2 linked regions of the Homo sapiens genome follow. The protein of the gene in region 2 interacts with the protein of the main gene of each other region in a pairwise test. Each region holds a gene or a part of one and is shown on either strand. Other genes may lie near its edges.

Evidence for each region.
Region 1: the proteins of CNTRL (region 2) and MAP3K4 interact in a two-hybrid assay, tested with the Homo sapiens proteins (one large-scale study listed by BioGRID and IntAct).

What each region holds. Positions count from the first base shown.
Region 1 is NC_000006.12:161,085,474-161,089,300, reverse strand, and holds part of MAP3K4 (mitogen-activated protein kinase kinase kinase 4), read right to left. Parts: intron 2,923-3,827; coding exon 2,823-2,922; intron 2,718-2,822; coding exon 2,634-2,717; intron 1,614-2,633; coding exon 1,347-1,613; intron 1-1,346. UniProt on the Homo sapiens protein: Component of a protein kinase signal transduction cascade. Activates the CSBP2, P38 and JNK MAPK pathways, but not the ERK pathway. Specifically phosphorylates and activates MAP2K4 and MAP2K6.
Region 2 is NC_000009.12:121,081,274-121,085,100, reverse strand, and holds part of CNTRL (centriolin), read right to left. Parts: intron 1-3,827. UniProt on the Homo sapiens protein: Involved in cell cycle progression and cytokinesis. During the late steps of cytokinesis, anchors exocyst and SNARE complexes at the midbody, thereby allowing secretory vesicle-mediated abscission.

The sequences.
Region 1 (3,827 bases), on a different chromosome or scaffold from region 2:
GGACATAAAAACCAACCCAGTTACTAGTTGTTATTCTAGTTCAACACCAGTCCAAAAACAATGCCAATCTCAGGGATACCAGGCCAACAACCATCTAATCAGAAAGTCATTTTTAAGCAAAGCTTCTCCTACACAGCAACACGCTTCAGTGGGCATTGACAGCTGGGATATTCAGCACCACGGAGAAGAACCCTTTGGGACTGCAGGCATGACATCTTTGAGATATCCTAGAACTTCAAGTAGTTCAGTACTGCCAGTGCAGAGTGTGTGTGAGTGTGTGTGTGTATGTGTGCATGTGTGTGTGTATTGGAGCAGCATATGAAGAAGGAAAATGTAGGAATAAGACAGAAATAAGATGAGGGGCCTTATATAAAACATTAAGAAATCAAGACTTTATTACTTTTGTTCTTAAGAGATGAAGAATCTTTGCAGTATTTTAAGTAGATCTGTGATGCAATCAGATGTATTATAATGATCATTCTAGAAGCACAAAAACAAACACAGAATTGGAGAGACAGAAGGTGAGGTTTGAAGCAGGGAAACTCAAAGTCAGAAACTGCAATAGTTCAGGAGAGGGATGGTAAAGTGCTGACTACAGCAGCTGCTCTGGGGATGCAGGGAAAGGATCATTTACTGGAAATGCTTCTGGCTTTCCAGGGCAAGGTATTAACTGGAAAGATGGGAGGCTGAATTTATATTAGCTGTCACACTTCTGGTTTAAACATGTGAGTGAACGCGGAACCATTCACTGAGACGGAATATAAAAGCAGAGTTGTTGGGGTGAGGGATACAGCAGGCCAGTGTATACTCAGTTCTGGTGAGGCTGAGCTCAAGGTGCATATGAACACTCACCATGACTGTTCCTAAGCTGAACACAGATAAATGAGAAAGCTTCTCATAGTTTATAACTAATGAGTTATAGAAACTGTCACGAGGTCCCTGTTAGGTAGGGAGGGGATAGCCTTCACTACAAAAAATTAAAATTAAATAACCAGTAAACCTGAGTACTTGGAGAACTGGGATTTCTAGAACTACAAATTATATTAGTGACATAACTCCTTTTAGATCATAGCTCCACAGATCTAACTACATGACTGAACTAAGAAAAGATATAAACCAGATAGATGGTTTATTTCAAGTATTCCAGTATAATTTAACTTAACAGAATGATATATTGTACAAATTATGCTGCAAAATGACCTATTAACACATTGAGGCATATTTTTGGGAAGTATATACTTGTGATTACTAGGGTAGTCAAACCCCTCATTCATGAGCAGCTAACAGTTCATTCTTACTAAAAGTCCTTGAAGTAACACTGCTGCAAAGATGGAGATGAGCTGTACCTGCATGCTTCTCAGGGTGTCAACAGTCTCCACCTGAGGCACGACTTTGACAGGCTGTGCCTCCCAGGTGCCCCAGCTGTCCTCTGAATCACGGGCTCGATCACCGTGCTTGGTCAGAAGCAGATAGGCATCGATGAGTACGTCATCTGAATCTTTTGAACAGTCCTTTCCTGCAGCTGCATTGAGTAACTGCAAAATAATACTCTTCTCCTCAGCAAGAGTGTCTGGAACAAACATTTGCAAGTTTTCTAACCCAGGAATTTGCACCTGCAAAAGACATAATCCAAAATCTTAAGGAACACTGTACATTAGAGAAATAGGTTATTTAAAACAAACCTAGGAAAGGAGAGGCAGGTTTGGGAAAGGGAAAGTGGGAAGGGCATGAATTGGAGCAGTGAGGGAACTGCAGGTAGCCGGCTTCAGTGTGACTGAAGGAGGCAGGAGGAGGAGAGTCTGTGAACGCACTGGAGGAGAGGCCTTACAGAGTCTCCCCGATTATTGGACATCCTCCTCACTGCTTTATTTTCAACAACAAAGAAAATACTCGACGGGGAGGCAAGGCAGCCTGAAAGAACCTCAACCACTGCTAGTTTGTGATGCTTACAAAAAGTCACCTGGCTTGGGAAAAAGGCAAAAATTGTTAATACAGATTCTCTAATTATTCCAGGGCAGGGAGCCAGGGGTTCATCACAAGAAGGCTCCTTGAGATCAGTTTCTCAAAGGGTACACATGTGGTGGCACGCTGCAGGTCATCCCTCCCACTCTCAGTATGGGAGCGGGATACAACTGTGGGCTTGGGATAAAATGTCCAGTGATGACATCACATACGGATTCTAACTGTGCTAAATCTCCAACAACTTAAAGTGGAGTAAAGTTGCTGACTCAAAAAGTGGCTCTAGTGATGACCAGGATCTTGATGTCAAAGATTCACTGTAAAACCTTTGAACTGCATCAGGAAATATAAGGGTGAAAAACAAAACCATAATTTAAAATGAATATTATCTCCTTATACACATTATTTTAAATATGTGTAACTAAATTAATAAACAGCATGAGTAAACTTTTTATTATTTATCTACACTCTGAAGACAAGTTAGTAAGTCAAGTATGAAAAAGACTGTTTCATTATTCCACTGGTGAATTACAGGACAGTCTTACAACTGGGGTTGTGGTACAGCCTTCAGAGCCTGTAATATTTACTATCTGGACCTTCAAGAAAAAGTCTGCCTGTTTTAGAATAAAGAAGGAAAGGCAAAATGTTTCAATCACAACATTTGAAGTACTTACCTTGACATACTGTTTTGATTTCAGAACATCCAGGAGGTCTCTAACTGGGGCTGAAAGCCTGAATTCTGCTGCTATTTCCAGGTCCTAGGATCACAGTTACAAAGAAACTTCTTTACGGTTAGCATTAAAAAAATAAGATAAAAGAAAAACAAGAAAAAAGGTACTAATTAATCAGGATTGCAAGCTCACCTTTCTCAACATTTTAGCAAATCCAAGTGCTTTGGAAGCCCTTTCTCTGGCTTCATGGAAGAGCTCCTTCAGGGCTCGACTGATCTCTATAACAGACCTCCTGCCAAGTGGATTCAAGTCCAGTTAGAACACATTAGGGAATATTCCAGAGGTGCAAGAGGGATTTAACAATAAAGATGAAGCAAATTCCAAATCACAGTAATAAATAAAGACTGAGGATTTTTTAAATGGGAACAAACTATTATTGAAGATGTAGTCAAAACATTCAGAAGCCTGCTCCTGACAGTTTTGTAGAAAATATTCATATCCTTTCAATGTAAGCAGGGCACATTTAATAACCTTCAAATAATAGGAAGCTCAATTTTCTTAACATTTCATTATGATCATTTCTTGGAGTTTAAGGTTAAGTTCTTAACTCCTGGCTCGTAATCTAAAAAGAAATCTATACAGTGTGATCTGGGAAATATTTAACAACTGGGTGACCCTAAATTACTATCTTATGTAATGCATGCCGATTTCTGTGGTGTAAATACTCCCATCATAGCTAATTTCAAGGCAGCAGTATGATGTCCCTGAGCAATGAAATGGGAAGAGATGTGCATGATCAGCTCTCTCAAGCCGGGAGAAGCAGCTCCAGCACACCACTGCCCATGGCCCCCTGAACTGGAACCGCTCTCTAGTTCACCATCTTCATTCCTGCCTTCTCATGTTTCTTTGGAATCTACATGCTTGGGGTTATTTTGAACCCACCATGTTAGCTCTCAAAACTGTGAGACCTACAAACTTATTTATTCCATTTCTCAGCTATTCAATATTTTCCCAGGTGAGAAACCATGTGGGAACTTCTTTCTTTAACCTTGGCATAAAAACATACCAGGTGTTCTGAAACTCAAAATGTGTTTTTCATCAAACCTTGAATGGTGAGCGAAAACATTTTCGCTTTGGAGAAGTCAGTTCTATATGAGCTTTCGCCAAGTTTGACTCATATGACCTTGCTGATTCTAT
Region 2 (3,827 bases):
GCTATATGAAAAACATCTGATCACTTCAAACTTCAGTGTCTACTATTCTTATTTACAAAATCAATTTTATTGAAGTATAGATCTTCCAGAAGGAACTAAAGCATTTGTTAATGAAAGAGACCTTGGTCAAATTCCTTTAAATGTTTTCATATAAAAATATTTCTTTTCCTATATGAAAGAAAGGTAAAGTTCATGACCATTAAGGCTCAGAATGGTTTAGCACTGTGACTTGATTAGTCCTTAAAAATTACATCCTCAGCCGGGCATAGTGGCTCATGCCTGTAATCCCAGCACTTTGAGAGGCTGAGGCGGGCAGATCACGAGGTCAGGAGATCGAGACCATCCTGGCTAACATGGTGAAACCCCGTCTCTACTAAAAATACAAAACATTAGCCAGGCGTGGTGGCAAGCGCCAGGAATCCCAGGTGCTCAGGAGGTCAAGGCAGAAGAATAGCTTGAACCTGGGAGGCGGAGCTTGCAGTGAGCCAAGATCGCGCCACTGCACTCCAGCCTGGGTGACAAAGCGAGACTCCATCTCACAAAAAAAAAAAAAATGACATCCTCTTCTATCCTAGGCATACAGTGTGCTGTGCCTACAGTGTGCGTACAGTATATAGCACACTGTAGGCCTCGAACAGAGCCTAGCAAATGGTAAATAATTAACATTTATTGAATGAGTTAATCATAAATAACATAAAATGTAAAATGTACTAGTTAGTATCTCAACAAAAAATGTCTGCATGAGCAATACTAGTCCTTAACATCAAGAGTCCTACATTTGCAAGGTTAGGTGTATGCAAAAATGATTTTCATGATACACAGTTGTTCTTATAAGTACATTTAGTCTAAAAACAGTACAAAAATTATAAACTTTACAAACTTTTGGACAAAAAATATTATAAGATGTATAGATCTCGAGCAAGGCTACATTAATAATGATGCTATCTTTGCTTAGTACCTTAATTTCCCCTATAGTCACTGCTGAAAATGTGAAAACAGAAATTATTTTTTAGAAAAAAAATTTAATGAAATAAGATATTAGGTTAAAGTAGTTTTTAATCCAAGGATTTAGAGTAGCTCAAGTCTTAATGCTATATAAATTGATATTAGAAAGGGATAGTGGAATGACAAACATCTTCATATATGTGATATTGTGAAATACATACAGTCACGCATCACATAACAATGTTTTGGTCAACAACGGACCACATACATGACAGTGGTCCCGTAAGATTATAATAAAGCTGAAAAATTCCTATAACTTAGTAACATCATATATGTCATAATGTCATAGTGCTACACATTACTCACATGTTTGTAGTGATGTTGGTGTAAACAAACCTACTGTGCTACAAGGTGTACACAAGCCTGGCACATACAATTATGTAGAGTACATAGTACTTGGTAATAAATGTCCGTGTTACTGGCTTATGTATTTACTATACCATACTTTTCATTGTTAGAGTGTACTCCTTCTATTTATTTTTTAAAAAATAGTTAACTATAAAACAGACTCAGGCAGGTAGGTCCTTCAAGAGGTATTCCAGAACATAACACTGTTATCATAAGAAATGACAGCTCCATGCATGTTATTGCCCTTGAAGACCTTCCAGTGGAACAAGATATGAAAGGCAGTCATACTGATGATCCTGACCCTTACAGGCCTAGGCTAATGTGTGTGTTTGCGTCTCAGTTTTTAAGAAAACATTTAAAAAGTAAAAAAGTTTTTAAAATAGAAAAAAGCTTATAGAATAAGGTTATAAAGAAATTAATTTTGTACAACTGTACAATGTGTTTGTTTTAAGCTAAGTTTTACTACAACAGTCAAAAAGTTTTTAAAAAGTTTAAAGTTTATAAAGTAAAAACATTACAGCAAGCTAAGGCTAATTTACTATTGAAGAGAGAAAAAATGTTTAATAAATTTAGTGTAGCCTAAGTGTACAGTGTTTATAAAGTCTACAGTAGTGTACCGTAATGTCCTACACCTTCACATTCACTCACCGACTAACTGGGAAAGAAACTTCCAGTCCTGCAAGCTCCATTCATCTGGTAAGTGCTCTATACAGGTATACTTTTTTTACATTTTATACCATATTTTTATTGTACTTTTTCTATTTTTTTTTTTTTTTTTGAGAGGGAGTCTCCCTCTGTCGCCCAGGCTGGTGTGCAGTGGCACGATCTCGGCTCACTGAAACCTCCACCTCCTGGGTTCAAGCGATTCTCCTGCCTCAGCCTCCTGAGTAGCTGGGACTACAGGCACGTGCCACCACGCCTGGCTAATTTTGGTATTTTTAGTAGAGACGGGGTTTCACCATATTGGCCAGGCTGGTCTCGAACTCCTGACCTTGTGATCCACGTGCCTTGGCCTCCCAAAGTGCTGGGATTACAAGTGTGAGCCACCACACCCAGCCCCTTTTCTATGTTTAGATGCACAAATATTTACCATGGTGCTACAACTGCCTAAAGTATTCAGTACAGTAACATGCTGTACAGGTTTGTAGTCTAGGAGCAACAGGCTATCCTATACCATCTAGGTTTGTGTAAGTACATTCTATGATGTTTGTACAATGATGAAATTGTCTAACAACGCATCTTACAGAGCAAATTCTGTCATTAAGGGACACATGACTGTATGTTAAATTAAACTAAATTTTGCCTGAAAGTGCCTCTGTACTTTAAGTCTCTACATAATGAACTGCAACCTAACTTAGAAGGTAAACTAACTGAAAGCCTAACTTAGGAGTATGTTTTTGTAATAGCTGAGTCTCAGCCAATCATAGCAGCTGAGCTTCAATCACAGGCAGTCAAGTGATCGTACCATGTTCAAATAAGGTAAACACAGAGCTATAACCAATCAAGCTATTTCTGTACCTCACTTCCCTTTTCTATCCATAAATGCTGCCTGCCTACATTGCAGAATGGATCTCTCTGAATCTCTTCTGGTTCTGAGGGCTGCCCAATTTGTGAACTATTCTTTGTTCAATTAAACTGTTAAATTTAATGTGTTGATAATTTCTCTTTTAACCTATATATTTGATGTTCCTCCTGTTTCCTATCACATAGCTCTTAAAACCTTTGGGTTCTCCACAGTGATAAGAGTGTCTTTCGTTTACTAATAAGATGACTGGTGACACCCAGACAGCTTTGGGATGGGGGCCAGTCACCAGAAAGACTAAGGCATGTTTAGAGGGTTGGGACTTTAAGCCCAACCCCACAACCTTTAAGGAGGGGAGAGCAGCTAAAATTGATTTGATAACCAGTAGCCAATGATGTGAGCAATCACGCCTACATAAGTAAGCCTCCATAAAACCCCAAAAGGACAGGGTCCAGAGAACTTCCAATTAGCTGAACATGTGGAGGTGTCTGGAAGATGGCATGCTGGCGAGAGCATGAAAACTTCATACCCCTTTCCACGTACCTTGCCCTATGCAACTCTTCCTCTGGCTGTTTATTTTGTAATATCCTTTATAATAAATGGGAAAATGTAAGTAGTATTTCTCTGAGTTCTGTGACCCACTCAAGCAAATTAATTGAACCCAAGGAGGGGGCAGTGGGAGTCCCAATTTATAGCTTGGTGGTCAGAAGTATAGGTGGCAATCTACTACTTGTAATGGGCATCTGAAGTTGGTGGCACTCTTGTGGGACTGAGTCCTTAACCTGTGGGATCTGATGCTATCTTCAGGCAGACAGTGTCAGAATTGAACTGAATAAGAGGACATGCAGCTGGTGTCCACTGAAGAAGTATCTGGTGTATGGGGCAACAACCCTTACATGTCTGATGTCACAAGTATTGTACTGTGTGGTACGGCAGTAGGAAGAACATTTTG